Linked DNA regions of Homo sapiens. The protein of the gene in region 1 purifies or fractionates together with the protein of each later gene. This does not show direct contact. Each region holds a gene or a part of one and is shown on either strand. Other genes may lie near its edges. The genes, in order: PPME1, PPP4R2, PPP2R2D and ACY1.

Region 1 (6,230 bases):
TTTTGGGAAGGAGTTTCCCTTGGACTTTCACTAGTGTCTATGTGACAGGGCCTTTGGTTTGTCCCAAACATGCTCCTTCTGGCTTTGTGGCAATCCTTCATTCAAGGATTCTGGGATCTCCTTCTTTATTCCCTTCCTGAGTTCATACATGCTGATCTGTAGGCTCTGCAAGGACACTGTTATGGCCAACACATAGTAGGTGCTCGTTAAAGCCATGTTAAGTGAACACATGAATGGTCCCTTCTCTTCTGGGGTGTAATGGAATGCTCAGTAGACTTGGAATCAGAAGACAAAGATGCTGCCACTCTGGCCGTGGCTGTGGGCAAGCCATTTCAAATGTCTGAGCTTTTGCTTCCTTGCCTTTAAATTGGGGATAGTGCCTGTACTTCACAAGGATACAAAGGATGAATGGAGATGAAAGTGCCTAAAACACAACCAACCACAAAGCTCACGAGCATTTCATTCATTCTCAGCCTCCTCCATCAAGTGTAAAGAGGGTTCATCTCCACGGTCATCCTCCTTCTGCTCTTTTAAGTATCTGGTCCAAAATGACTTCTGCCCAGGGTCCCTTGTAGCATGCAGGAACAGAATGATGTGGAAGCAAGCCAGTTTTGAATTCTGACAGTCACTTCCAAGCTGTAGAATTTGGACCTGTCTGCCTACCTGTAAAAGGAACATAACAGCACCTACCTCATAGAGTTGCTGTGAAGATTAAATGAGATGTGTGTCAAGTGAATTAGATGACATTCAAAATTTGAGTGAACCTGATGAACCTGAGTGCCCCTGAAAACCAAGTGATCATGCTGCCCTCTTGTGGACAAGAGGGCACATAGCTCAGCAAAGGCACCCGCAAAGTGTTCCGGTGAGAGAAATCAAACCACACATAAGGAACTTCTCTCCTCTACTAGGGAGCTCATGAACTACCCTGAAATATTTCATCATCAACTAGACAAGAAATTTTCAGACATTGATGCACTTGTTAAAATGCAGATCAGTTCTGATTCAATAGGTCTGACATGGGGACACAGTTCTCTAACGAGCTTCCAAGAGATACTGATGCTATTGGCCCACAGACGGCCCTGAATAAAGTTCCTAACTATAACAATGTAACAGTGTCATAACAGGAACTACTTATTAAATGTCTTACCATGTGCCAGTTAGTGAGAAAGCCAGTTAACCTAGTTTAACTTGTATAATCCTCAAGACCCTGTGGGGTAGGTACGGTTTATCTCCATTTTTCAGATGAGTGAACTACAGCAGAGAGAAAGTTTGTTGCCATACCATACAGTGTAAGGGGTGGGGCTTGGGTTCTAATTTAGACACTCTGGCCCCAGAGCCTGCTAGGAGGAAGCCTCCAACAGTGTGGAGGACCACCCAGGGGGGAGGAGGGCAGCAAAGGTACTGAAGTGATCAAAGTGAGAGATGATGAGGCCTAAGCTAGGGCACTGGCTGTGGGATGGAAAAGAGGGGGACACGGAAAAGAGGATGAACAGGATTTGGTGGTAGACCTGAGGTGGGTGTAAGAGAAGTCATTCACTGTGGGTATCTGGTTTGGACAACTGGAGAGATGGTGATACCTATCACTTATTGAGCCAGGAAACGCTGGAGGAAGAGCAAGTTTCATGGGGAGCAAGTTTCCGGGGGAAGGTGGATTCAGCTTTAGAAACAGTCAATATGAAGTGGCTTTTGGTCATCTGGGAGAGACAGGAGGAGGAACCTGGGCCTACCTGTTCAGAGCTCAGGAAATGATTTGGGTTGTAGATGAAGTTTCACATAAGTGAAGCTATGGTGACTGAGATCATGTGGACAGTGCACAGATTGTCCTGCTCTGGACCAAAGTCGACACAGCCGATAATTAGGAGAGATGGGACTGGAATCCCATCCTGGCTGCAGAGGAGGGTGGCTCTGACCATCCCACTGGGCATTCTGGATCAGGGGACAGGCAGAGCATAACACACTGAAGGGCTATAGGGAAAGGGGTTTCTGGAGTTCCATGACAACTAAGTCCAATGAGCTGTCCCCTGCCCCCATATCAGCAGAAATAAGGACAATTCCACAGAGAAAGACCAGACCAATAAAGGTTGGGAGATATTTATTTTCTTTAAACAAGGTCATAAATAACAAAAAACAAAGTAGGTCCCAGACTCCGGACCATGCAGCAGGACAGGGGTGGGAGGTTGTTGAGTGGAAAGGTGGAGGGGGCTACACATCACCTAAGACAGTCACAGAAAAGATGGGCTTCAGGACACTGCCCCTTCCTGCCCTTGGAAATGGCGTGCCTGGGCAATAGGGACAGGCCACAGTGCTGTGTCGAGGCAGCTGGAAGAAGGCAAAGACTGGGGATGCCAGGCTGTAATGTTTCTGTGTGGAGTGATGTGAAATCCACAAATGGCAAAGAGAAGCTGTAGGTTTGAAGAGGCAAGGGGGCACTGCACACCTCCAGGAACCAGTTATGAAAATGGTTAAATTTGATGATTAAAAACAATTCCATAGGCTTTGGCCTGTGGCTTTGTGCATGGGCTGTATTTAACCTGGGTTGCTCTGTGGCAGGTGAGGGCGCAGGAGGCCCCTGGAGCAGCCTGGCCTCAGCCCAGGGCAGGTGCCCAGACATGTGGGAGTGGGACAGTGGGCTCTCCCAGATGGGAGGCCATGTGCTTGGACCGGCTGGACCTGATTTTCAGGCTCGTTTCTTGTGATGCTATCCACCACCACCGCTCGCTATGGCTAAGGATGGGATCTTGGCCTCTCTGGGTCTTCCAAACCTGGAAGAGTACGACTGGGATAAAACGGTACCTGACTAGTGTTTTATTTGAAAGGGAAAAATAAAGACCACCCCATGCATTGTCCATCCCATGAGGCAGGGCTGGGCCATGCCAAGACAATCTCAAGGAATGGAGGTCCCTGAGCCTGGGAAGACATTTGAACTCAGATGTATCGCCTGATGCTAGGAAGAGGGGCTCAGTATGGCAAATCTGGAGGCTTTACCCTAGGCAACGCAGGGAGAGCAGGCAGGAGCTACCCCAGTACAGGGAAGGGAAAGGAGCAGGGGAGCCCTGGACTGGGGAAGCCGATGTTGGTCAAGGGCCCTGGAAAACAATGCTTTTGGCAGAATACATGAAAAGGTTGGTACATCTCGGGGTGCCCGTCTACCGGGAGCCAGTGTCACATGGCTGGGCGGGATGGAGAGGAGACAGTGGCATCACAGTGGCCTCTGGTGCGACGTATTTACAACAGAGCTCGATGTTGAGGAGGGGTGGACAGCAGGTCACTAACAGCCAGGAAACACACTGTGGAAGAACAGAAAGAGAAGGAAAAACAAATGTAACTATCAATAGCTTTCCCTTGCTTATCTGTATCCTCCAGGAAGCCCTCCCTAATGACCACCAAGGCCCTGGCAAATCTGACCCATTTCACAGCCCTGACCAGAGCTGGACCCAGGGTCTGCTCTCAGTGTGCTGCTCATTTGCCCAAGGCTCCAAATGGTCGAAGGGCCCCAGCCAAACACTGTTTAGTAAGAGAAATTAAGTCTTTATTGTTGGTTCCTGGGATCCATGAATGGTCAGTTGTTAGAGGGATGGCTCAGCATAGGGGTGTCGCTTCTGTGGTTCACTGTCCCAAGGTCTTGCCATCATCTCCAGTGCTTACCCTGCCCTGTCACTCTCATCTCCCAGGCCCTGGAATTCAGAGTTCTCTAACGCAGAAGCCATTTCCTTTTCTTAATATTTCTTCTGCAAACTTTCTGAGAGTGGGGAACAAGTTTCCCCAAGCCCTCACCAAAATCAGAGAAGAGACTTTTCAATGGTAGGAATGACTCCTCATGAGGGTTGTGGGCTCTCTGAGGATCAAAGGCCTTCTGCAGTACAGACTAGGAGCTGGCTGAGGTGGGTCAATACCACCTGGTTTGGTCAACATGCCTCTCTTCTTCCTCAACAAAGAGCCCAACTGTGTTTCCCTAAACAGATGAAGAGCTACCTAGGATGAGAGACCTGGCCCTGTTTCTTCCTCTAGACCAATAGAGGGGGAATTTTTGCCTCCCTTGAGGCATTTGGTAAAATCTGGAGACATTTCTGTTTGTCAAAACCGTGTGTGGGAGGGGTACTACTGTTATCAGGTGGGTAAAAGCCAGGGATACTGCTAAGCATCCTACAATGCACAGGACAGTCCCCACAATGAAGAATTATCCACCTCAAAATGTCAATAAAGCTGAGGTTGAAAACCCTGCTCTAGAGCTTCCAGGATCACCCCTGCAGAGTGGCTAATATTCTGCCAGCTTCGGAAAGGGAGGGGAAGCAAGCCTGGCAGAGGCACCCATTCCATTCCCAGCTTGCTTAGTAGCTGGCCATGGGAAGACACTGTGCAACACTGTAGAAAACCCTGCTCTAGGCCAGGCGCGGTGGCTTGTGCCTATAATCCCTATAATCCCAACACTTTAGGAGGCCGATGCGGGTGGATCACTTGAGGCCAGGAGTTCAAGACCAGCCTGGCCAACATGGAGAAACCACCATCTTTACTAAAAAAAAAAAAAAACAAAAAAAAAAACAAAATTAGCCGGGTACGGTGGCGTACGCCTGTGATCCCAGCTACTCGGGAGACTGAGGCACTGGATCACTTGAGCCCAGGTGGCAGAGGTTGCAGTGAACCAAGACTGTGCCAAGAAAAAAAAAAAAAAAAAAAAGCCCTGCTCCATGGCCTGCCCAGCTTTCCTTGGCAGCAGGGCAGGAGAAGCCAAAGAAAACTTCTCTAGGAGCCTGGAAAAGGACTGATTCCTATCCCAGCCTCCTCAAAGGGGCACCTCAAGAAGAAATGCACATCACAGTGGGGAGTGAGACTAGGCACAATTTAATCACAGCCTCAGCATCAACCCGTGGGAGCACAGCACAAAGAAACAACCAACCATGGCTTTGTAGAAACAGACATGCCAGGCTCTTCACTGAGGAGGAGGAAGAAAGGCATGGTGACCAAACCAGGCAGGGGTAAGGCAGAGATATTTACAGTCCTACAAGTGTCTGCTTGTCAGATTCGGCCAGCACTGCTGGGTTCTTAAACCCTTGTACCCGCCTTACCACTGGAATCCACCGATGGGTTCTGCAAACCTGTGCCGGATCAGGAAAGTGGCAACAGCTTCAGCTACCTGGAAATGGGAGAGATATTCCAGGCCATATAAAGGTTAGTGATGGGGCTTAGCCTTGGGCTGTGAGCTACTGTTAGATGGTTAGGCTCTACGGTGCCCTCATCCCACCCACAGGTCTGAGTGGCTTGAAATTAAAAGGACCTAGGCCCTCCCTAGCAGAGCTAGAAGACTCCTCCCCACTATCCTTGCCAGGGATAGCTCCATAGAGCTCAAGAGGAATGACGTGAAGGGCTTATGTGTGCCCTCAGAGTTACAGAATGGTGTTTTCTCACAGGAGGAGCCCATATTAATTCCTAACTGTGCCTGTGGTTTAGGGAGCAGTTTCTACCCTAATCATCCCTCTTCCATCTCTGGCTTTTGGGGGTATTGGAGAAGTAGAGCTTAAGATCTTAACCACAGGGCCCTGGGATGAAATAGCAGAGTGTCAGTAGCTCCTCAGCACATATACACAAAACCAATACCATAAGCAGCTGCCAGGGAGAAGTTGGAGAGCTGGTGGAACTGCATCTGCATAGGCTCCACAGCAGCTGCTGCAGGCAATGCAGGCTGAGACTCAGAGACTTGTCTTCTGTGACATCCAGGGTTATTCTCACAGTTGTCCTTTTACAGTCACTGAGCACCAGACTCACCTTGTCAGGGGCATCCTCATGGACTGCATGGCCACACTGGGGTAGGACCTGCATCTGGAACTTCCCTGGAGAGGAATCAAAGCAAGGCAACTTCAGCGACTAAAAGAGCCCTCTCTTATGCAGCCTCATAGGTCATTCCAGGAGCCCAGGACCTACCTCCCCATTTCCAACCTCACCTCAATACTCTGGACCCAATTATCAAGTCTTGCTGAGGATGGTAATACAAGTAATTGTAACCTTGCGCCAATCATTTCCCTTCACTTTTTCCTTCTGTCCTATTTAGTGTACATTTACTGTGGGCCAGAGACACATAGAAGAAACAGTTCTTGTCCTCAGGGGATTTACAGTCCAGTAGGGGAGTAAAACACAAAAACCAACATTTTAATGCAGCATGTCATTCCTATGATAAAACTGGCTACATGGGGCTGTAAGAGCATAAGAAAGGGAACTTCACAATCCAAGAGGGAACC
Region 2 (9,203 bases), on another chromosome or scaffold:
TTCCTCAAATATGAAATTGGACTAAATCTACTCTTTTTAGCCCCCCAAATACACAATTCATGAAAGTTGCTACCTAACAACAGACATGCTTTTCTCCATCTGTATGTTTTGTCTACCTCTTCTTAACTCCCTTTGTTGGGATAAGTGAAATCTGATAGTCATCATTTCATGAAATTCCAAATGAATACTCAAAACACCTGGAAATCTTTCTGTGCTGTTGTTTTTTAGAGGGAACTTATGAAATATACTGGAAAATATTCCCTACCTCCTATATCTGGATACACTTCTAATATTCAAAACACCACCATCATAATGATCCCAAGACACTGCAAATTCTATTGCAGTTTGAATCACCCAATATTGAGATATATTTAGTTTATGCTAAATCCCTGACTTTAAAATAACTGACATATTTGGCGAGCTGCTGGATCTTAACACACTTCCACCTTCAGTCTTTACTTGCACTGCCAAAGCTGTGGGAGAGGCATTTTCGACAAACCCACAGTGGAAACTGACCCACATATTTCAATAGAAATGTTACAATTGCTACATTTAACCACAGTAATACACTCAACATTAAGGCCTAAACAGCTTCTTGTATAATAGCCTCAAAGTTAGCCACATTTTAAATAATTTACATGAGAAACTGTATTCTGAATTCCAATCAAGTAACGTTTTCAGGTTGAAAGTGGGAAACTGCATGCATTCTTAAATACACATGGGAATTGTTAGTCACCAACTAAGCTTACCCTTCCACTCTGTAGCATTGCATGAAATGCAAAGAAAAACAGTTATCATCCAAAATGAAGACAGAATACTGAACCCATATTTATCTTTCAAATTCTCAGCGATTATAGGCAGCATCAAAAGTCTCACAAGCCTACTCAACTGCAAAAATTTCTTGCTGCAAGTATTACTGAATATCAAGTCCCATTATACCATGTCTAAAGCAGGACTTGGGTAATTTAATGATATATCCTCCTGTAGCAGCACCTATCCCCTGTAAGAGGCGGGTGTGCTATTGTGCTTTCTATAGGCAGGGGGTAGCTGGTCTCATTCACGGAAATTTCCTTTGTTAAGATGCTCACTTTCTGGTGATACCATCCAACTGCCCACTGATTTCCTGGCAAGGGCATTCAACAGAATGTACTGCTCCCAATCCCACAAACCTAGTAGCAAAGTTGCAGGGGTGACCTTAGCACACTTGAAGTGGGCAAAGTAGACACAGAATCGGTAAAACATAGGAATCTAAAGTGGGCTGTGGACCTACCACTTGCTTTCAATTTTGTTATCACTTGTCAAGCATGGGGCTAGCCTGTGAGGTTACAAAGATGAGTAAAACAGTGGAGATGGCAGACTAGTATACAGGGAATTGCTGGCATTTTGGAATATTCATTACTTTTAGTTATGGGAAGAAAAACTCTGAAAATGTACAAACAAAACCTAAAGATGACAAACTACTGCTAAAGTTTAAACTTAAAACGTTCTGAAGAATAAAAGGGAATTGCATACTCTTCATTTTAAATAGGGAAGAGTTCACGCAGTTTATTCCTAGCCAGTGGAAAAATCAGTCTTCCCATCATTAGCCCTGAACTACGTACTAGTTATACTATTTAGTAAACAAAATTAAGTGGGGGTAAGAGATCAAATATGAGAAGCTGAAAACTAAGACATTCTTAAGGTTAGAAACACACCGACTAGTACTCTCCTTAGTTCAGAGCCACAGATCTTACCCTCTACTGTAGCTACTGTGCGATAATATGCCTAGAGGGCCAGTCATGGTGGCTCATGTCTGTAATCCCAGCACTGTGGGAGGCTGAGGCGGGCAGATCACCTGATGTCAGGAGTTCAAGACCACCCTGGCCAACACTGTGAAACCCCATCTCTACGAAAAACATATATATACAAAAATGAGACGGGCATGGTGGTGCATGCCTGTAGTCCTAGCTACTCAGGAGGCTGAGGCAGGAGAATTGTTTGAACCCGGGAGGCAGAGGTTCCAGTGAGCCGAGACCGAGATCATACCACTGCACTCCAGCCTGGGCAACGGAGGAAGATTCCGTCCCAAAAACAAAAACAAAAAGAAGCATAGGAAAGGAGACCCACAGTTGAAAACAGAACCCTCCTCTCCACTTCAGGTAATTCTACACTTCTTACCATGTAGTTGCCTGAAGGTGGGATTTCAAAAATGATTTTTTTTATTTTTAAAGACGGACTCTCGATCTGTCGCCCAGGCTGGAGTGCAGTGGTGTGATCTCGGCTCACTGCAACCTCTGCCTCCCAGGTTCAAGCAATTCTCCTGCCTCAGCCTCCTGAGTAGCCGGGATTACAGGTGCCCACCACCACACCTGGCTAATTTTTGTTATTTTTAGTAGAGACGGGGTTTCATCATGTTGGCCAGGCTGGTCTCGAACTTCTGGCCTCAAGAGATCTACCTGCCTTGGCCTCAAGTGCTGGGATTACAGGCGTGAGCCACTGCGCCCAGCCTTTAAAATGATTAACACAAATATTGTAAATATATACATGTAAGCTAGTGCCAAATTATACCAGTGGAGACTTATTTAAATCTGGATTTTGTTGACAATCAGCATGACTTGCCTGGCAAAGAACCACAACTGTCAAGTCCTGCTGGAACACTTTGTCACCATGTAAGAAACAGGGCTGTAACAAAGTCACACATTGAGTTTCCTCAGTTAAGGATTTGAGGTGGGTGGTGGCGCAGGGTCGGGGGGGGTTGGGGGGGTTGGGGGGGAGTCGGAGTGGCAGCAGGGCAAATAAACCATTATGGCACATAAAATAATTACACACATAGAAATATTCTAATTTATATTTTATTGCATTATGAAAATAATACATTTGGCAAAGTAATCTAGGCTCCAAGTTGAAATAAAAGAAAATCCTGAAGAGTGTACTGATTTTTAAAATGTGAAATAGTAAGATGTAGTCTAACCAATACATACTAGCACTCTTATTAGGCCAAAACCCAGCAAACCTAATTTTTATAATTCCATATGAAATTACAAGGTGTTTTGCATTCATTCATTTTATGATTAGCACAAATCTTGAGAACTGACCCTCACCTTCATCAAAACCAATGTTAAATTCCTGTTCAGAAGACAATTTGAAACACTACCGAAAATTTTTAATTCCTTTGGTTTTGTAAGTTGCATTTTCATCCTTACCATGTTACATTTTTTTCATAATCAAACATTGTAGCAGCTTTAGATTCTGCCCAAGTACCTTTAAGTAAACTAGTATATTACATTTACATTATTTGAAAAGTTGATTTTACAAATGCAAAAATGCATAAATACATGCCTATCTACACCGGCAAAACAAAATACTCTGAATCTCAATGCTTTAACAAGCCACACCTTCTGGCCGAGGATTTCTGGGATGCCTTTCCAAGCCACAGGGCCTGGCTGGCAATTCCACTACTCCAAAACACACGTCTGAAAGGTGTAGTTACAATAAACCCTAAGCAGGTTAAATTTATCTAATAATCAACATTTAAAATATGACATTTTCACTACTTCTGCTACATTTTTCAGAACTGAAAATATATTTTTCAAAAATGTACAAGGATATTTTCACTTTTTAAAAGGGAAAAGTGCTAGAAACATAATACATATATATATATATATCTCACTTTCCTCATCACCATCTTCAAATTTTTTTTACATGTTGGGTTATAGTCTAGAGAACAGGTAAGCAATCTGCTCAAGGTCAGAAACAAAATATCTTTAATCACTGAGGTCTCCATTCTTCATTTAGATCTTTTAACAGGACTTTGCTTGATATATGTTAAGAAATATGCCTAAAATCACTTCTGTTCAGAAGTGAATCAGTTACTATTAGAACTGACATTTTCATTAAGCAAAGTCTGTGTTAAGTGCACCTATGAATACCTGCGGAAATTTACTTCCAAATGGCCATCAATATCTAAAACCAGCTGAACAAGGTTTCCCAATTTAACTACAGAAGTATTCCACCTACCCTAAAGATATTCCATGAGCATTCTACAATTATCTGTATAAACAGCAACAAGTTTGATCTATGATCAACATATGAATATCTAATAAATATTAAAACTATTAAACTATAGATTAAAATGCAGATCTCTCATAGAGTTAAGTGATGTCATTTTGGTACATTCACCATTATTGTACTTTATTTAATAAAGAAATACATTTGCCCTTGCAAATATAGCAATTGCAAGTTTACAAATAAAACCACAGACCTCAAAGTCATAATGCTAAATCTTCAACTTACAACCAACAAAAGTAAATCAATTTGTTTACAAATGGTCCATGGCACTACAATTAAAATAAAAAATATCAAAAGGTCACAGGATCTTAGGTAAGTTTACTGACAATTTCATAAATATTCAAAAGAAAATTTCAAAATTTGTAAACTTAAATTTGCCTCATTTTAACATTTTTGAAAAATTTTTTAAAAATTTACAATGGTTAATTTTTCTCCCCTCTTGGGTATAGTAAATCAATATTCAGATTTTATTTCAACTATTAGACATAGTCATAAATATATCATCTAGCTGTTGTGAACCTGACAGTCAAGTCAGTCAGTAGTATATTATCCTACAAACATAAATGGATCCAAATCGTTTTGGTATTTATAGCCATGATGATTTAAGTAGTCAAAACGCAAAACTTGTGGTTGCCCCCCAAATCACCCAAAAGCATATTATACAGTGTCAGAAACTGTTTGCATCAGTTTTAGAAGCTCATCTGTGTAGTTCAGGTATCTGAAACTAAAAAAGGGGGGATTCTTTCATATTTTGATAAAAATGTAGTCAAATATTTCATAACATTAATATTTATTGCTTTATATGAATACTGTATTGAAAGCCCAAGCATTCAGTTTACACACAGAAATTATACAATTATATACCGCTTCACAAAGGCAGTGAACACATTACATTCTACAAAATCTACTTTACAGAAATTTAAAAACTTTAAATATCAAAAGGTACAGCTGAAGAAACAGGTATAAATTTGGCAGCCAGTAATTTTGACAGGGAAGTTACAGCTTGCATGACTTTAAATATGTAAATTTGAAAATACTGAATTTCGAGTAATCATTGTGCTTTGTGTTGATCTGAAAAATATAACACTGGCTGTCGAAGAAGCATGTTCAAAAATATTTAATTCACTTCAAAATGTCATACAAATTATGGTGGTTTCTATGCACCCCTAAAGCTTCAGTCATTTAGCTCAGGTACATACTAAAGTAATATATTAATTCTTCCAGTACAGTGGTGTTTCATACCATTGACATTTGCATACCCTAGAATAATTTAGAAAGACATGTGTAATATTCACAATGTTCAGAAAAGCAAGCAAAAGGTCAAGGAACCTACTTGGTTCTTCTGAGATGGTCTCATATCAGCTTCATAAACATTCATTCTACAAAATAGTAAGCTAACATTTGAACACAATTTCCAAGATAAAGCATATTTTCTCATAAATAATGAAGTCTTTTTCTCAGGCACCTCAGAAGTATACAAAAGAATTTGAGTTTGAACAGATCTCTTGGAATGTGTTTAACCTGGTATTTCAACAGACTTAAGATTTCCAGGGTTTCACAAGGGCCAGATTTTATTTCAATTACTCAGAAGAGAAAGAAAATGTCTTCTGAAAGAGGTGAACTCAATCATTACCAATAGAAAAAGTATCCACTGTATTCATCTCTTATAGAAACAGAAAAATATAACATTTCCCCCCTTAGAATTATATATATATATATATATATATGTATGTATATATGACTTAAAGTTCCATTGTACGTAGCCAAACAATAAAATCTGGAAACCAGCATGAAACCCTATAATTCACATGTTAAAATGTTGAAACTATGACCAAAATATGAAAACTGCTAGAGCTATCAGAAAGAGACAAGACAAAAAGCTTCTTGCATATGTATAAACTAAATGTGATAATCTCAAAAAACTTTTCAAAATTGTAATTACTTTCCAGTTTAAAAACTTCAATCCTAAATTAAAAAAAAAAAAAAATCTATACACAAACCACTGATTTGCCCAGACCAAAAAAAGAAAGAAAGAAAAGTCAGCGGTAAGGTAAGCAGGACCCAGAGGAGCTGATATTCACAGTTCTTACATGTACAACTCTTTCAGGAATTATCCATAAAGTACTTTATTTTACAACCTGCTTCTCTTGTAAAACTAAAGGTCCATTTTATTACACAAAAGTTTTATACAGTGTTAAAACCAGAACTGTATGTAAAATACTGCATCTAAATGTTTCTAAATAGTTAGTCTTGTTCCATTGGTTCATCGGTGACTTCTGTGGCTTCGTCATCATTTTCCATGGATGATTCTGAAAGAATCTCTCCAGTTTTACTGGAATTGGATCCTACTAATTCTTCTGTTTCACGGCAGTCAGAAGAACTACTACTTACAGGGCCTTCGTTTTCACTACCTTCAGAATGTAGCAAATCTTTCTCAGCTTGAGACACATCAGATTCCTCCATTTGATTATTTTCCTCAGAAGTCTCTTCATTCACAGTTAAGGCATCATCAGATTCTTTTTCTTGATTTTTTCTTTCTGGGATCATTTCTCTTGATGTCATAAAAGACTCTAAAAATAAGCAAATGTTGTTGTAGTTAAATTGTATTTTCAAAATACCTCCACAGTTAAGTTTCATGAATTCTGATATTCTATAGTTCAAATCACATCCCCTGAAATTCAGCAGCAACTACATACAGGTGGGAGAAAAGCCCAACATCAGCATTATAAGGAGTTCCATTACGTAAAATTCTTTCACGAAAAAAATGAAGTACAAGAATTTGAGGATCTCCTTACTCCACCCTTTTACAGATGGTCTCTAAATACCTTCTTCTTCCTCTTCATCCTCTTCTTCATCCTCTTCTGTACAGTGCTGCCGGGTACAACGGCTATCTTTGTCTTTATCCTGAGATGAAGATGATGCTTCTGTTTCTCCTACCATAACTGAAGAAATTTCGCTGGAAGTCGTTTGACTGGCTGTTTCTCTGACTTCACCTTCTTTGTCAAACCTGAGTCTTTTTACCTCATGCCCCTCAGCTTCCACAGCATCTTCATCTGGATGTTTATTTTTCAAAGGGCTCACTGAGGAAACTTCTGATTCAGAGGTCGAAGAGTCACTGTAAATGTTTTTTTAAAGTGTCATTAATAAGATTATTTTCCCCATCTTCTACATCCCCATTTTTAAGGTTAAATAATGTTTTAAATTGTATTTCAGTGTCAAAGTTAAATTATAACACCTGAACAAAGAAAAACACAAGAGAATAATTTCAAGGTAAACTAAACTGTTTGATGAATAATTCCCAGTAGGACTCAGAAAAGCTATATGACCTTTCTGTGCAATTCTCCAGTAAGTTAAATATTCTCCTACAATAAACCCGCAAGTCTTCCATACGGACATACTCTCTTAAGTCCTCTCCCTCATTTAGTCTTCCTTCCCTTAATGTGATACAGAAAATTTGAAGATATAAACAAAAGGTGTCCTTTTATGAACTACAATGAGAAACGACTCACAAAAATCAACTTATTTATAAAGATCATTTCTTTTCAAGTAACTTTCAGAAACAACAAATGAAATGGATCATCATATCTACGTTACTTTTAGACCCTACATAAACAGTCTCCACAAATTAGCAGTTTTAAGTCTTGTCTATGTCCACCTTCAACATTTGCTACAGCTGCAAAGAGAAGCCAGTGCTCCTATAAACCGCATGAAAACCTTGTTCTGTCCCTCAGAACTTATAAATAGTAAGTGATAAGTACTGATTAAATGTTAACTTTAACTTTTAATAAAAACACTGTTTTTAAATATAAAACATACAAACCTGTGATTTTTCTCCTCATTTTGCTGCAAATTTGCCTCTTTGCTGTCTGTGCTCTCAGGCAACCCATTTGTTGTCATGGGGGCTGACAAAGAAACCTTTGGTCGATTAAGTGGCCTGGGTGTCCCAGGCCCATTTATATTAGACCTATAATAAGATAAATGAACATCATTTCCTATTTTTATAAAAAGTCATCCCTCTTAAGGTATGTTGATGTGAATACATCACAGAAGTATTTGCTGCAACTTTGTTTTCAGGCCCATGCCTTACCAAATTAACTAATTCTATGTAGTTCATCCTATGGTGTCCATAAAATGCCCAATTTTTAAAAAGTACACTAAGCCTGCTACTCAAAATCAGGACAATGCAAACTCTGTAGGTATTAAAAATCTAGAATCTCACCTCTCAGTATAGCTTGGTGAATTTCCAGGAAACATAACACCATTCATTCGATTTAAACTATTGGAATTGTTTTTCCTATAAGAAAAGAAAATACACTTGTGGATGACTTAATTTTTTTTTAGATGGAGTCTGGCTCTGTCACCCAAGGTGGAATGGAGTGCAGTGGTGCAATCTCAGCTCACTGCAACCTCCACTTCCCAGGTTCAAGCAATTCTTATGCCTCAGCCTCCCAAGTAGCTGGGATGACAGACGTGTGATGCCATGCGCAGCTATTTTTTTTATTTTTAGTAGAGACGGGGTTTTGCCATGTTGGCCAGGCTAGCCTCAAACTCATGACCTCAAGTGATCGGCCCACCTCGGCCTCCCAAAGTGCTGGGATTACAGGCGTTAAGCCACCACACCTGGACTTTTTTTTTTTTTTTTTTTTTTAAATAATGAGAATTAGTTCATGTTAGGAGTGCATGGATCTATGATTCCACCCAACACTCCCCCCTCAAGATCTTACGGGGTAGATGCCATTTGAAGCAAAGGGAGTGTGATGGTTGATCCTGGTATAACATCAGGAGCTTTAAATCCCAAAAATGTGGGGTTGCTCATCTTGGCCCAGTAGTTTGCCGCTGTTGCTAAGTTTGGGAACATTCGTGGTGACAGCTCCCCAATAATGGGGTGGCAAAGTACACCCCCAAACTCAAAATATTTCCCCAATGCCTTTTTAACCATTGTTTTTTTTCTCCTCAAAGACTGGGATCTCAGACACAATGGCCCGTAGAGCAATGGAGCCATCCATGCACTGATCTAGAAACATTCTCACAGCATTAATAGGTTGTCATCTGTGCTTTCTTGGCAACTAACTTGACTTGCGTAGCTTGTGTAGAGGGGATTCAAAGTCTCCAAATAGAAGTGTGAACATTAATTCTCCAACCCATGGTCTTGAGCT
Region 3 (9,211 bases), on another chromosome or scaffold:
CCATAACATGCAGAAAAAATCTGCACAACAGTTAACAATTTCCAGAAAGGAGCCACCGTTTAGAACCGCAACATCGTGGAATTAGAAGCTAACAAACAACTTTTCTACTTGCTTCCTGCTGGAAGCCCCCTGGTTTTACTATTTTAACTCTTGGTCAACTCAGCATATAAACTCACCTAGTCCCACCTTCCAGCAAAGGGAGGAGATGCAAGTCACCACTGACTGCTGCTTATACACCTGCTCATCAGCAGGACACTTAATAACTTCCTTGTGAGCTCAGCTCTACTCCTACCTGCAGGGGGATGGGAAGTCTGATGACCCAGTGGAATCACAACTCTTAGCAAAATGACCTGACCCATAGCTAAACCCAATTCTTTTAAAAAAAAAAGGGGGGTGGGGTGCGCATCAAATTTTACATAGGCCAGCACTTTCACCATAGGTTGATTCTGATTCCCCAGCCCAAAACTATTAGTTTTAAAAACAAAACAGAAATCAAAACAAAAACCAAAGGCTTTTCTATGTCACTCACTTCATGACCTCCAAAGTCAGGAGTGCCTACTCCTAGCCCTGCACCACTTCCTGTGCACTGGGCATCACCCCACTGAAGTCAGGAGAGGACCCAGGCCTTAATCTCTAAGGCTCCTTCTCCTTACCCATTGCAGAGAGGGCAGAAAGACGGCCAGAGTGCAGGGCTGTAGTAAAGCTCTACAGAGCTGAACTTGGCCCAGAACAAAACCTTCAAGAACAAAATGCCTCACAAGCCACAAATCTAAACAAACAAAATCTGCTATACCTTAAGTTCTACAGCCTGAGCAGCAGTGCACGATAAAAACCCCTGTGAACTGCCCATCTCTCTTTTTTTTTTTGAGACAAAGTCTTGCTCTGTCGCCCAGGCTGGAGTGCAGTGGCACGATCTCGGCTCACTGCAAGCTCTGCCTCCCGGGTTCATGCCATTCTCCTGCCTCAGCCTCCCAAGTAGCTGGGACTGCAGGCGCCCGCCATCACACCCGGCTAATTTTTGTATTTTTAGTAGAGACGGGGTTTCACCGTGTTAGCCAGGATGGTCTCGATCTCCTGACCTTGTGATCTGCCTGCCTCGGCCTCCCAAAGTGCTGGGATTACAAGCGTGAGCCACTGCGCCCGGCCATCTCTCTCCTTTTTTTTTTTTTTTTGAGACGGAGTCTCGCTCTGACGCCCAGGCTGGAGTGCAATGGCACCATCTCGCCTCACTGCAACCTCCACCTCCCAGGTTTAAGCAATCCTCCTGTCTCAGTCTCCTGAGGAGCTGGAATTACAGGCCGGCCCTGCCACGCCTGGCTAATTTTTGTATTTTTAGTAGAGATGGGGTTTCGCCATATTGGCCAGGCTAGTCTCAAACTCCTGACCTCAAGTGATCCACCCGCCTCAGCCTCCCAGAGTGCTGGGGTTACAGGTGTGAGTCACCGTACCCAGCCACCCATCTCTTATCTCTCACCAACATCTCTCCCTCAAGGTTGCGTTTGGGCATGACCAGCTTCTTGATCCTTGCTGCTCAGCAATCCCTGGTGACTAACGACTACACTTCCCTTCATCATCACTGACTCTCTGGTGTTAATACAAAGCAACGGTATCACAACTATGGGACAAATCGATGGTGACTTATAAATGTGTTAATCTGGATGGGTTACTATGGCCAAAGCATACATGGATTAAAATAGACAGCTCTGAATACACAGAATAACCAAAACACATGCAGATAATTACCACAAAGCAATGTTACAAAAGAAACCACGACAACTCGAAATACCAAACTTTTGGATTTACTCAAAATTTAACTTAAAATAGGGATTTAAAACTGCAAAAAGTTCCCATCAGTTTAATTCAGAGAACAAAGTATTTGTCAAGATTTTTTTTTTTTTTTTTTTTTTTTGAGATGGAGCCTTGTTCTATTGTCCAGGCTGGAGGGCAATGGCACGATCTCCACTCACTGCAACCTCCACCACCCGGGTTCAAGTGATTCTCCTGCCTCAGCCTCCCAGGTAGCTGGGATTACATGCATGTGCCACCACGCCCGGCTAACTTCTGTATTTTTAGCAGAGACGGGGTTTCACTGTGTTGGCCAGGCTGGTCTCAAACTCCTGACCTCAAGTGATCTGTCCACCTTGGCCTCCCAAAGTGCTGGAATTATAGGCATGAGCCACAACACCCGGCCCAAGATTTTTTTTAAAGAAAGAATACTATTTTCATATGTGTACAGTCACATTTAAAATATACTACCTTAGTTATACTTAAATTTTAATTCATTCAGCTTATCAATAATTTTTTTTTTTTTAAGTAAAGAAACCAGGCAGGTGCGGTGGCTCACGCCTATAATCTCAGCACCTTGGGAGACTGACGTGGGCAGACCACTTGAGCCCAGGAGTTCAAGACCAGCCTGGGCAACATGGCGAAATCCCCTACAACAATACAAAAATTAGCCTGGTGTGGTGGTGCACGCGTGTGTGTGGTCCTAGCTACTTCAGAGACTGAGGTGGGCGAATCGCTTGAGCCTAGGAGGCAGAGGTTGCAGTGAGCCCAGATCGCACCACTGCACTCCATCCAGCCTGGGCTACAAAGTGAGACCCTGTCTCCAAAAAACAAAATAAAGAGTTAACAGAAATTAAGGCAAGCATTAAGCCCTCTCACTTTCCTACTCCCAAACAAGTTTTGCTTTACTTGCGACAGAAATCACACTTGAGTAAGGCTGAACTGTCACTTGCTTAGCATATGCAAAATCAAACAAAAAAAGTAATGCATTTTAAAGAAATAAAATCAATAAACTTTTTAGATCACATAAAATGCACCTAGTTTTAATCTCAAACCATATATATTACGCATTTCTTAGAGCCCAGTTTCACCTGCTTAATAACCTAGGCCCTGTTTGTCCCAGGGGGCGCAGAATCTCCAGATGTCCTCAGGGGTCATGTGCCAAACCAGACACTGCCAGGGAGAGGTACAGGGTAGGGAAGAGGGAGTAAAAGTTCACGGGGTTGGGGGGGCCGAGATGGAGGGAAGTGAACAGGACGTCTGACAAGGGGCTTTTAGTAACTTGAGGCAGGGAAGGTGTATTTGGTGCAAACACCAATCATTTTTAAGAAAAGGTTAAAGGTTTACAATGTTCAGTAAGATGTATGAACAACAACAAAAAAGTCACTATGACTCTGAATCTGAAATATTAATCAAACTTCTAAGACTCGACCAAGTTCTCCATTCAACGGTGAAAAAGGAAAGCTACATAGCTTTTTAACTTTAAGGTGACAGGTAAGCTTCATGGGAAGCTGGGGTGGGAGGCACTTCCCAGTTCCCTCCCACCACCCTAAAACTTTGTGCCTGGGCCAATTTGAGAGTATGATTTAAGGAAAAGACCAGTGAACTTCAAGTAATACCATGAAGTTCAAGACTAAAATCTGGAATAGAGACCTTAAAATATATCAGTAGAGAAAGTAGCAGTACCTCACAGTAAAATTCAAGGATTTTAGAACCGCAGAAAGCAGACCTTAAGAATCAGGGAGCCGAGGCAACCAGCTCGCTCAAGAGCGCACCGCCGATGAAACGCAGAGCCTGGTGGGGGCCGAGGCCCCGACCCAGCCCTAGGCGCGTTCCCAGCCTCTGGGCCATTGTGCCGCGCTGCCCGAGCGCACGATATGGACTCCGTTCCCGTCCCCGGCTCCGCCGCGGTCTCCTCAGTTCCGCCCCAGGCAGGAGGCAGCCCCGGGCTTCGGTTCCGCCCCGGGCAGGAGGCAGCCCCAGGCGCTGGGTTCGGAGGACCCGGCCGCCCGTGACCTTGGTGACTTACATAAGTCCCGCCGCGGGCCCGACGCCTCCGCCCGTGCCCCGCGGGCCGGGACAGCGGACAGAGGACGGCCGCCCCCCGATCACGGCCCCCAGCTCGGCCCCTGGCCCCTGCCCCGCCCGGCCCCCATCCTCCTGCCTGCCTTCCACGGACGCTTGGGGCCCGGAGGCCGCGCGCGGCCGGGCTGGGAGCTGTCCGCGAGGGTCCCGGGGCGGGGCGCGGCGCGGGGCTCACCTTCGGCCACGTCCTCGTCGATGGCCCCCTTGACCTGCGAGAAGCACCACTGGAAGTCGTTGCCGCCCGCGGGGCAGCCGCCGCCTCCGGCTCCTGCAAACACAACGGGGCGGTCAGGCCGGCCGCGGCCCCCGCCCGCCCCCGTGGTCCCCGCCGGCCCGCGCAGACCCCTCACCTGCCATGGCAGCCGGCGGCGGGACGGGCGGGGACCGCGGCAGACCAGGGAGACGGCCTCCGCGCCGCTGCAGCCGAGCGCTCAGCCCCGGGGCCGCCACCACCGCCGGCGCCGCCGCCGCCGCCGCCGCCGCCGGGGAGGGATTTTTTTCCCTTTTCAAAATGGCGCCCAATGCCCGTCGCCCCGCTCGATGACGTCATCGCCCTCCGCCTCCTCGGACGGGCAGCGGACGGGGCGGGCCGCGGGGGCTGCCGGGGGCGCCCAATGCGCCTGCGCCCGGCGCCGCTCGGCTGTAGGGGGGAAGGGACGCCTGGGCGACTGCGGAGGGAAGCCGGGGTCGCCGGGCGCAGGCCAGCTCCTCGGCCCTCGGCCCTAGGCCTCCCGCAGTGGTCCGGTGTGCACCCGGCGCTCCCCAGAAGACTAGCGCCGCCGGCCGCCCCTACTCTCCGGGGACTCCCGGAGAGCCTAAGCTGCGGCCGGACACGCCTTCAGGGCGCCGCTTGGCCGGACACGCCCCCATCCCGCATCGGCCAATGGAAACGTGGGTTCTCCGTGGAACCGCCAATGGAGGACGCGCTTGGCGGCGGTGGGCGGGCATGTGGGCCGGCCTCACCTGAGCGCGCCGTACCTGAGCGCTGCCTCCCGCCCACTGCCCCCGACGCGGAGTCTCGCTCTGTTCCCCGGGCTGGAGTGCGGGGGCGCGATCTCGACTCCCTAAAAGCCTCGACCTCCTGGGCTCAATCCATCCTACTGCTTCAGCCTCGGAAGTAGCTGCGAGCACAGGCACGCGCCGCCAGGCTCGCTGATTTTTAAATTTTTTGTAGAGACGGGGGTCTATGTTGCTCAGGCTGGTCTCGAACTCCTGGGCTCGAGCCATCTGCCGGCCTCGGTCTCCCAATCCTGTCCACCTCCCTTTCGGAGCGCACCGTTGCTCACCAGATGGCTACCTTAGGGGTTCTTGGAGCTCCCAGTGCAGTCTTAGGGAAACAGGGCCGATCGTTTCATTTGCGGGTGGTTTTCTCTGGCATACTGAGCGATCATGGGTGCTCCTCGACTTACAGTGGGGCTACCCTCCCCGCAAATAAGCCCTTCCTAAGTCAAAAATGCATCTAATACCCAATCTACCCGTCGTAAAGTTGAAAAATCTGAAGTCGAGCTATCATCAGGGGGACTGTCCCTATGGGATTGATGTCCGGAATCAGAACTTCTTTCAGGGTAGCTGCGGTGGGCACTGATGGTATTGCACCACTAAAAGACAGTCGCTGCAAATCAGGAACATTCGTCCACTCCATTAATATTATTTATTGACAGCTCCTGCCACGTGCGGCACACTCCACAGCCCTGGGGGTGAGAGGTTAACAGAGCAGAGAAATCTCAGCCCTGGTAGAGCTTACCTTTCAGTGGGGGAGACAGACAATAAGGAAATAAATACATAATAAGTCGGAGCTGGAGAGAAAAATCAGGGAAGAAGGAAATGTGTATGGGGAGAGTTGGAGTCTTGCACGGGGTGACTGGAGAAGACTCAAGGATAAAGAGCAAACCATGCAGACGTCTAGGAAAGCTTGGCCAGGAAGGGGAGACCACCAAGTGCCAGGACAGGAAGGAGGGCCATGCCTGGCATGGGCAGGAGGCAGCCAGAAGCTGCGTGGGTGCAGAGTGAGTGGAGGGGAGGCCAGGGGTTGGAGTCAAGGCAGGGAGGTAAGTGGAGGAGGATGGACAGTGGGCAGGCCATTTAGGGGACTTGGACTCTGAATGAGATGGGCTCATGAACAGAAGACGATCGTGATGGACTTGGGCTTTTGGATGCTCTGCTGAGAATAGCTTGTGGGGACCCAAAGAGGGGAAGCAGGGAGACCAATCAGGTGGCCAGCTGGGCTGACCAGGCATGGGGATGAGGATAGAGTGGTGAACATGGGGTGGGGTGGTGAGAACCAGTCAGATTTCAGAGAAAAGTGCTTCGACAGCAGAGCCCCTGGGATTTGCTGATGGAAAAGATGCGGTGTGAGAGAAAGCAGGGACTTAGGAATGCCTGCTCTCGGGTGGTCTGAGCACCTGGAAGGATGGAGTTTCTGCAGCAGAAGGCACAGCTGGGTGGGGGCGGTGCAGCCCGACCAGAGGTTCGCTGTCAACACATAGTGCTGTTGCACAGACAGGCTGGGAGCACACAGGGAAGTCAGAGCCAGAGCATCAAGGTGAGAGCATTTAGAGGTCATTTCAAGTCAGGAAACTGGGTGAGGTCACCTCAGGAGGGAGGACAGATGGGGGACAGGACCAAGGACAGAGCCCTGAAGGGGTGAGGACGTGGAGGATGAGTGAGCAGCCTGCGAGGTGGGCTCCTGGAGAACCCATCTCCAGGATCCACTGAAGACAGGAGGGAGTGGCTGCTCTGTGATGCTATGTGATGAGTATACAGGAGTGACCATTTGGTTGTAGGGACTGGGAGGCCATTACTGACTTGGACGGAGCGGTGGCTATGGAATGGACTCAGATCACAAGTTTGCAGAGGGCTCTGGGGACAGTGGCAGGAGAGGAACTAGAGGCAGTGAATACCTACTTCTCTGTTGAGGAGAAGAAGAGCAGAAAAATGGGGCTGTAATCTTGTTTTTAAAATGTAGATTTAGCCTATCTGCCCAGGAAGACACTTGAAAACCTGAATTAATGACCAGATCTCTTTTATTTGTTAACTTAAAAACCTGACAATTTATAAATTTAGAAAAAGAGGAACTTTATTTCTTATAAATGGTTACAGCCAGCAAGGTGGCCATCCCCCAGGCCAAGATGGGAGATGGCTCTTCGTAGGAGGAGGAGTTGGGGCAGGAGCTCTATGCTGAACGGGTTGGCTAAACATACATAGACAACAGGCTTTGGGAGGAGCTATGAATACTCAGGAAGGGGCTCCTGACACGTGTATTATGTAACATAGGACCCAATCTCACTCTGTCGGGGAGACTAAACATTTGAATATATTACGACTGTAATCCCAGCACTTTGGGAGGCCAAGTCTGGCAGGTTACCTGAGGTCAGGAGTTCGAGATCAGCCTGGCTAACATGGCGAAACCCCCTGTCTACTAAAAATACAAAAATTAGCTGGGCGTGGTGGCGCCCGTATGTCTGTAGTCCTAGCTACTTGGGAGGCTGAGACAGGAGAATCCCTCCAACCTGGGAAGCAGAGGTTGCAGTGAGCCGAGATCGTGCCGTTACACTCCAGCCTGGGCGACAGAGCGAGACTCCGTCTCTAAATAAATAAATAAATAAATAAATAAGTAAATTAGGACTAGGCCCTGTACCTCAAGAGGTCTTTTCAGGACAGGAAGGCATGCAGATGTGCAACCTCTGTAAACCGGCCAGAACCAGTCCAAGGTCGGTGGTTTCTTATCAGGAGACAGTTACAGTCTTCTGTCCAATGAAAGCTGTAGTTACGGCTGCTGGAGCAGGGCTGGGGGTCACTTAGTGGCTGGTGGAGCTGCAGTTGCTTAATGTTGCTCCTATCAAGGCCAGTGCTTATTTAGCTGCTGGAGGGAAGGAAAACCCAACAGCAGTGGGAACGACGTTTTCTCTGTAAGTGTGCGGTGCGTGGCTTCACCCTCCCCCCGCACGGCCTTAGGCCCTGTTTATGATTTGGCATCTTACTGCCACAGAGTCCGTTCTGTCAGTCTTATGGTCTCTAGTTTAACGTTAACGCTGGTCTGTTGTGTCCAAACCACAAAAGGGCGGGGGTATCAGGAGGCCTGTCTGACCTCCCATCCCCCATTATAGCCTCAGTGTTGAGGTTTTCCTGGGGCCCCCCCTGGCCACAGGGGTGTTCGTTCAGCCAGTGGGGGATGTAGGATTTTATTCTTAGTTCCTATGTAACTGCTTTAATGTGTGTTAAATATGTCTTTTGAAGTGATGACAAGATAATTAGTTTTTGTTTAGAATGTATTTTCTGGTTCATTAGCTCCCATTAAATTAAACTAAAAACAAGATATAGCCACAAAAGTAACATATTCCTGAGACTGGGGGGCTGCCTTCCCTGCGTCCCACTGTGCATCAGCTGACCAGCAAGAGATTTTTAACTATTTTTTAAAAAGAGATTTTTAACTATTCTTCTTATGATGCTAAAAACTTAAAATATTTGGCTAAACCACAATGACTTTTGCGCCAACCTAATAGCTCAATGAATTTCTCTGTTTGGATTCTAATTGGTGTTTACAAGTTTCTGAGTATTGACAGCAATTTTATTTTTTAAAATTGTTTTTCAGATCTCACAGCTGAATTGAAAATGCCTGGTGTGTATTAGAATCTAGCCTATTGTAATCATAGAAGGCAGTACTGTTCAGTAACTAAAAGGCATGAGCTACTACTGATACAAACAGCAGTCCCAAATGAGTCCCCGAAATATTACGAAAATGAAAGGAGCCAGACACGGAGGCGTGCAAGCTGCATGCGCCCCTTTATTTTATCATACTTAGTCTCATGTGTCAATGTAGCGAGGGTATAGTATGTAGTTATTTCATCAGAACTAAGCCAAGTATTGCCACGAGGGTGTTTCGTGGATGTGGTTAACACCCACAGGCAGTTGACTTTGAGAAAAGGAGATTACCCTTGATAATATGAGTGAGCCTCATCCAATCAATCAAAGGCCTTCAGAACAAATACTGAGGTTTCTTGGAGAACAAATTCTGCCTCCAGGCTGCTGTATCAGCCCTTGCCTGAGCTAGCCTGCCGGCCTGCCCTGCTCACCCTGTGCACCCTCTGTTTTTGAACTTGTCAGCCTCCACAATTGTGTGAGTGAGTTCCTGAAAATAAAGCTCATTCCATACACGGTTTCTCTGAAGAATCCTGAAGTTCTAGAACAGGTGAGACTGCTCTACAGTGATTTTAAAAATGGCACAGGGGCTGGGCGTGGTGGCTCACGCCTGTAATCCCAGCACTTTGGGAGGCCGAGGTGGGCAGATCACAAGGTCAGGAGTTTGAGACCAGCCTGACCAACATGGTGAAACCCCATCTCT
Region 4 (5,478 bases), on another chromosome or scaffold:
GCCTTCATCCAGCAGCAAGTTCTGGGCCAGAGTGGGGTGGGGACTGGGGGGTGGGAAGCAGGAGACAGCAATGGGGGATGGCAATCAGCTGCCTTCTTCAGCCCCCGTCTTTCCTCTCCCACCACTCCACCTGTCACTCCAACCCTATGGTGGGCTCCTAGGGCAGGGCCACTGTTGACCAGAGTGGATTAATGGCTAAATTTGGGGTTTGGGCCCCTCTTCCCATCCCTGCCCCCAGGAACATTGGAGTCACGACCCCTTTGAGGCCTTCAAGGATTCTGAGGGCTACATCTATGCCAGGGGTGCCCAGGACATGAAGTGCGTCAGCATCCAGTGAGTGTCCTCCATTCCTACTCCTCCACAATGTCCCCACTGGTCCAGTGGATTGAAGCAGGACCTGAGGGGGTGATTGGAGAAACTCAAGGCCAAGGAACACCGTGACCTCTTGGACAGGAACTACTGCCATGACCATTGCATGGATAGGGAGATTCAGACCAGAGAGGGGCAGGGACTTTCTGGAGTCCCTATCAGGGTGTGGCAGGGTAAAGTCCAGGACACAGGACTCCAGCCTGCTGGCCCTGCCTGTGGGGCCAGCCTGCGCATCTGGTGGCTCCCCCAGCACCTGGCTTATGCCCCCTCAGGTACCTGGAAGCTGTGAGGAGGCTGAAGGTGGAGGGCCACCGGTTCCCCAGAACCATCCACATGACCTTTGTGCCTGGTAGGAGTGGCTCAGATACCTTTGGGAAAGGGGAGGGTGGGGCGGGGCAGCCTCCTCATCTCACGTCCCTGCTGCTTTTACAGATGAGGAGGTTGGGGGTCACCAAGGCATGGAGCTGTTCGTGCAGCGGCCTGAGTTCCACGCCCTGAGGGCAGGCTTTGCCCTGGATGAGGGTGAGCAGGTTGGCAAGCCAATGAGCAGCCAGGCAGGGAGTAGGAGGCTGCTAGTGGGGACTGAGCTGCTCCACCCTCTGAACCCCCTTTCCCTCCTCAGGCATAGCCAATCCCACTGATGCCTTCACTGTCTTTTATAGTGAGCGGAGTCCCTGGTGTAAGTATGAGCTTGGAGGGAGGGCTCACTCTACAGGCGGGAGGCTAGGCCAGAAAGGGCACGGTCCTATGCAGGGTTGCACAGCAAAGTTGAGGCCTGAGAAGGCCTTGAACCCAGGGCCTCTACCTCCCAGCTCTTTCCTATCTGAGCTTCTCTGAGGGCAAGCCCTGAATGGGCAGAAACCAGCTGTATGCTACGGGCCCTGAGTGGGGACAGGACCCTGCCAGAGGAGCCTGGAATGAGGGGGAGACCTGGGCCCACCCCAGGCTGATTGTGTCTCCAGCCCCTCAGGCTGAAGACACTGCCTTCCCCCTACACCTCCCCAGGGGTGCGGGTTACCAGCACTGGGAGGCCAGGCCATGCCTCACGCTTCATGGAGGACACAGCAGCAGAGAAGCTGGTACGTGGCACCCCAGGAGGGAGTCTGGGAGTTCAGGAGGCTCTATCCTGAGGCCACTGTCCCATTTAACCTCATATTCTCATAGCACAAGGTTGTAAACTCCATCCTGGCATTCCGGGAGAAGGAATGGCAGAGGTGAGGCAGCCTGGGAGGCAGTGGGGTGGCTCTGGGAGGCGGTACCACAGAGGATAGAGTCTGAGCCACCTCTTTTATCTGTTGCTGCCGCTACCCTGCCCCCACACCACAGGCTGCAGTCAAACCCCCACCTGAAAGAGGGGTCCGTGACCTCCGTGAACCTGACTAAGCTAGAGGGTGGCGTGGCCTATAACGTGATACCTGCCACCATGAGCGCCAGCTTTGACTTCCGTGTGGCACCGGATGTGGACTTCAAGGTGCCACCTCCACCTGGGTTTGGAGGAGGGATCCTGGGTCCTCAGTCTTGTCCTAGAGGCCTCTGGAAAGCCTGAAGGATCAGCTCGTCTCCCTTCTCTTAGGCTTTTGAGGAGCAGCTGCAGAGCTGGTGCCAGGCAGCTGGCGAGGGGGTCACCCTAGAGTTTGCTCAGGTATGGACTTGGGACATGTGATGGGAGAGTGTGGGAGCCGGGGGAGACCCAAGTGTGCAACAGTGGAGTGTGTGCTTGGTGTGTCTGCATATGTCTGGGCATTTCTTTATCTGTGACAGACACATTTTATTCCAACAAGCATTCATTGTAGAGGCCACTGTGGGTGCTGGGGAATGCTGTGGGGAGTAAAATTAGGCACAGTTCATGCCCTTGTATGGTGAAACGGGGAGATATAAATCAAACATTTATGTGATATTACTTTTTTCTGAGAGAATCTCACTCCGTCACCCAGGCTGCAGTGCAGTGGCACAATCTCGGCTCACCTCCGCCTCCCGGGTTCAAGCAATTCTTGTGCCTCAGCCTCCAGAGTAGTTGGGATTACAGGCACCTGCCACCACGCCCAGCTAATTTTTGCATTTTTAGTAGAGACAGTGTTTCACCATGTTGGCCAGGCTTGTCTCGAACTCCTGGCCTCAAGTGATCCACCCACCTTGGCCTCGCAAAATGCTGGGATTACAGGCATGAGCCACTGCGCCCAGCCGTACTTTCATATAACCCATGTGGTACAGGAAAGGGTGGCCCCTTGCACTCTGAAAACCTGTAACTGGAGTATCCAACTAGTCTGAGAGGTCTGGGGGAGCCATCTTGAGGAAGGGGCACTTGGGCTAGGATCTGAAGGATGGACAGGAGGTAAGTAGACGGAGGGTGGGAAGGTCCCAGACCTAGGACATTTGAGGGGCTGAAAGAGGACCTGTGGCTGGACTGGCTACCCAGATGTCTGGGTAGGTGAAGGAGTGGGGGTGGGGAGGTGTTATGTACTAGGCACAGCCCACTCTATGGGAAATAGGGCAAGATGCCCAGGCCCATGTCCTGATCCTGCCATTCTTCCTGTCCCTCAGAAGTGGATGCACCCCCAAGTGACACCTACTGATGACTCAAACCCTTGGTGGGCAGCTTTTAGCCGGGTCTGCAAGGATATGTGAGCACGCTGGCCAGCTCTCCTCACAGCCCAGCCCCCTACTCCTCTCCTTCCTGCTGCCCCCTCCCTTCTCCCTCCTTCTCCCACCTCTTTCCCACCTTCCTTTGCCCCTTCAATTCTTCGCTTTCTCCCTCCCCATTCATCAGGCTCTTTCTCCTACAGGAACCTCACTCTGGAGCCTGAGATCATGCCTGCTGCCACTGACAACCGCTATATCCGCGCGGTGAGCCACTTGCATATAGTGCCTGGGCAGTGGACTGGGCCTGAGTGCTGGCTTTTCCCTAACGGCTCTTCCTCACCCCTGCAGGTGGGGGTCCCAGCTCTAGGCTTCTCACCCATGAACCGCACACCTGTGCTGCTGCACGACCACGATGAACGGCTGCATGAGGCTGTGTTCCTCCGTGGGGTGGACATATATACACGCCTGCTGCCTGCCCTTGCCAGTGTGCCTGCCCTGCCCAGTGACAGCTGAGCCCTGGAACTCCTAAACCTTTGCCCCTGGGGCTTCCATCCCAACCAGTGCCAAGGACCTCCTCTTCCCCCTTCCAAATAATAAAGTCTATGGACAGGGCTGTCTCTGAAGTACTAACACAAGGACACTCGTGGAGCAAGAATTTTCCTTTTCCTGGGGACATGTTACCATCTCCATTTCACAGATGAGGAAACTGAGCCTGGCTGTTAGCACTTCCCCACTACCCCACACTGCTCTGTGCCCCTTGACACAGCACACCCATTCAGTACCATCCAGCCATGTCTGTGCCTAGCAAGAAAGGGCCACAGTTCCTATTTGAGTGGCCACCATACTTAGTTCTGACCTATCAGGGATTCCATTCCCATTAAAGAGGGATACTAAGGACCTCAGGAACCACTCCCATCTTCCTGGGTGTACATCTGGGATCCTGAGACAGTACCAGAATAGCACCAGCTGGGCCCCTGCTAGATGAGGGGCAGGCAGAGGGCCAACGGTGACTGCTGGCTCCTGTCAAAACCTGTACACCCTTGTGTTGGCAGCAGGGGCCACAGAGGGGCAGGGTCCCTGGTAGACTAGGTCAGTTCATCTTAGAGGCCTCAGCACCCTGGATCTGTGTGTGCAGAGGCCCAGGAACTGGGCTTTCATCTCAGCCTTGCTAGGACCCCCAGGTAGTACCAAGAGTAAACTATGGCCCCAGTAGCAGAGCCTGATCTAGCCAGATCTGCTCTATCCTGTTCTGACTTCCCTGAGCATGGGGCAGGAGAGACAGGGCTGGGGTGGGATAGTTGGATTTTTTAAGTTTCTAGTTGTAGCCAGAAGTCCAGAGCCTGGCTCTGGGCTGCAGGCTTAGTACTAATAGAAATAACAATCACTCCTGCTCACAGTTGACAAGGAGCCAGGACTTGACTGGCTTTTTTTTTTTTTTTTTTTTTTTTGAGATGGAGTCTTTCTCTGTCGCCCAGGCTGGCGTGCAGTGGCGCGATCTCGGCTCACTGCAAACTCCGCTTCCTGGGTTCACGCCATTCTCCTGCCTCAGTTTCCTGAGTAGTTGGGACTACAGGCCCCCGCCACCACGCCCAGCTTTTTGTATTTTTAGTAGAGACGGGGTTTCACCTCCGCCTCCCAGGTTCAAGGGATTCTCCTGCCTCAGCCTCCCAAGTAGCTGGGACTACATGCGCGTGCCACCACGGCCGGCTAATTTTTGTATTTTTAGTAGAGACGGTTTCACCACGTTGAACAGGATGATTTCGATCTCTTGACCTCAGGGGATCCGCCTGCCTCGGCCTCCCAAAGTGCTGGTGAGAGGTGACAGCGTGCTGGCAGTCCTCACAGCCCTCGCTCGCTCTCCCCGCCTCCTCTGCCTCGGCTCCCACTTTGGTGGCACTTGAGGAGCCCTTCAGCCCACCGCTGCACTGTAGGAACCCCTTTCTGGGCTGGCCAAGGCCAGAGCCGGCTCCCTCAGTTCGCAGGGAGGTGTGGAGGGAGAGGCGCGAGCGGGAACCGGGGCTGCCCGCCGCGCTTGCGGGCCAGCTGGAGTTCCGGGTGGGCGTGGGTTTGGCGGGCCCCGCACTCGCACTCGGAGCAGCCGGCCGGCCCTGCCGTCCCCGCCGTCCCCGGGCAATGAGGGGCTTAGCACCCGGGCCAGTGGCTGCGGAGGGTGTACTGGGTCCCCCAGCAGTGCCAGGCCACCGGCGCTGCTCTCGATTTCTCACCGGGTCTTAGCTGCCTTCCCGCGGGTCAGGGTTTGGGACCTGCAGCCCACCATGCCTGAGCCTCCCACCCCCTCCACTGGCTCCCGTGCGGCCCCAGCCTCCCCCATGAGCGCCGCCCCCCGCTCCACGGCACCCAGTCCCATCCACCACCCAAGGGCTGAGGAGTGCGGGCTCACGGAGCAGGACTGGCAGGCAGCTCCACCTGCAGCCCCGGTGCGGGATCCACTGGGTGAAGCCAGCTGGGCTCCTGAGTCTGGTGGGGACGTGGAGAACCTTTATGTCTAGCTCAGGGATTGTAAATACA

What was found.
Region 2: the proteins of PPME1 (region 1) and PPP4R2 purify together in Homo sapiens (affinity purification with mass spectrometry; 5 studies listed by BioGRID and IntAct, with this or other methods). This does not show direct contact.
Region 3: the proteins of PPME1 (region 1) and PPP2R2D purify together in Homo sapiens (affinity purification with mass spectrometry; 6 studies listed by BioGRID and IntAct, with this or other methods). This does not show direct contact.
Region 4: the proteins of PPME1 (region 1) and ACY1 purify together in Homo sapiens (affinity purification with mass spectrometry; 4 studies listed by BioGRID and IntAct, with this or other methods). This does not show direct contact.

What each region holds. Positions count from the first base shown.
Region 1 is NC_000011.10:74,250,549-74,256,778, reverse strand, and holds the end of PPME1 (protein phosphatase methylesterase 1), read right to left. Parts: intron 5,826-6,230; coding exon 5,761-5,825; coding exon of another isoform or gene 5,521-5,760; exon of another isoform or gene 5,149-5,520; intron 5,132-5,148; coding exon 5,064-5,131; intron 4,366-5,063; exon of another isoform or gene 4,227-4,365; intron 3,288-4,226; coding exon 3,269-3,287; 3' UTR 2,076-3,268; downstream 1-2,075. UniProt on the Homo sapiens protein: Demethylates proteins that have been reversibly carboxymethylated. Demethylates PPP2CB (in vitro) and PPP2CA. Binding to PPP2CA displaces the manganese ion and inactivates the enzyme.
Region 2 is NC_000003.12:73,062,811-73,072,013, reverse strand, and holds the end of PPP4R2 (serine/threonine-protein phosphatase 4 regulatory subunit 2), read right to left. Parts: coding exon of another isoform or gene 9,114-9,203; exon of another isoform or gene 8,677-9,113; intron 8,342-8,676; coding exon 8,267-8,341; intron 8,012-8,266; coding exon 7,868-8,011; intron 7,163-7,867; coding exon 6,873-7,162; intron 6,618-6,872; coding exon 6,292-6,617; 3' UTR 2,816-6,291; downstream 1-2,815. Other genes in the region: EBLN2 (endogenous Bornavirus-like nucleoprotein 2), read right to left, coding at 9,114-9,203. UniProt on the Homo sapiens protein: Regulatory subunit of serine/threonine-protein phosphatase 4 (PP4). May regulate the activity of PPP4C at centrosomal microtubule organizing centers.
Region 3 is NC_000010.11:131,896,165-131,905,375, reverse strand, and holds the start of PPP2R2D (serine/threonine-protein phosphatase 2A 55 kDa regulatory subunit B delta isoform), read right to left. Parts: upstream 4,369-9,211; 5' UTR 4,228-4,368; coding exon 4,221-4,227; intron 4,139-4,220; coding exon 4,046-4,138; intron 1-4,045. UniProt on the Homo sapiens protein: Substrate-recognition subunit of protein phosphatase 2A (PP2A) that plays a key role in cell cycle by controlling mitosis entry and exit. Involved in chromosome clustering during late mitosis by mediating dephosphorylation of MKI67.
Region 4 is NC_000003.12:51,985,614-51,991,091, forward strand, and holds the end of ACY1 (aminoacylase-1), read left to right. Parts: intron 1-238; coding exon 239-333; intron 334-641; coding exon 642-718; intron 719-801; coding exon 802-891; intron 892-991; coding exon 992-1,048; intron 1,049-1,374; coding exon 1,375-1,448; intron 1,449-1,533; coding exon 1,534-1,583; intron 1,584-1,695; coding exon 1,696-1,840; intron 1,841-1,942; coding exon 1,943-2,011; intron 2,012-2,910; coding exon 2,911-2,990; intron 2,991-3,152; coding exon 3,153-3,213; intron 3,214-3,297; coding exon 3,298-3,462; 3' UTR 3,463-3,584; downstream 3,585-5,478. Other genes in the region: ABHD14A-ACY1 readthrough (NMD candidate), read left to right, coding at 239-333, 642-718, 802-891, 992-1,048, 1,375-1,448, 1,534-1,583, 1,696-1,840, 1,943-2,011 and 3 more. UniProt on the Homo sapiens protein: Catalyzes the hydrolysis of N-acetylated amino acids to acetate and free amino acids.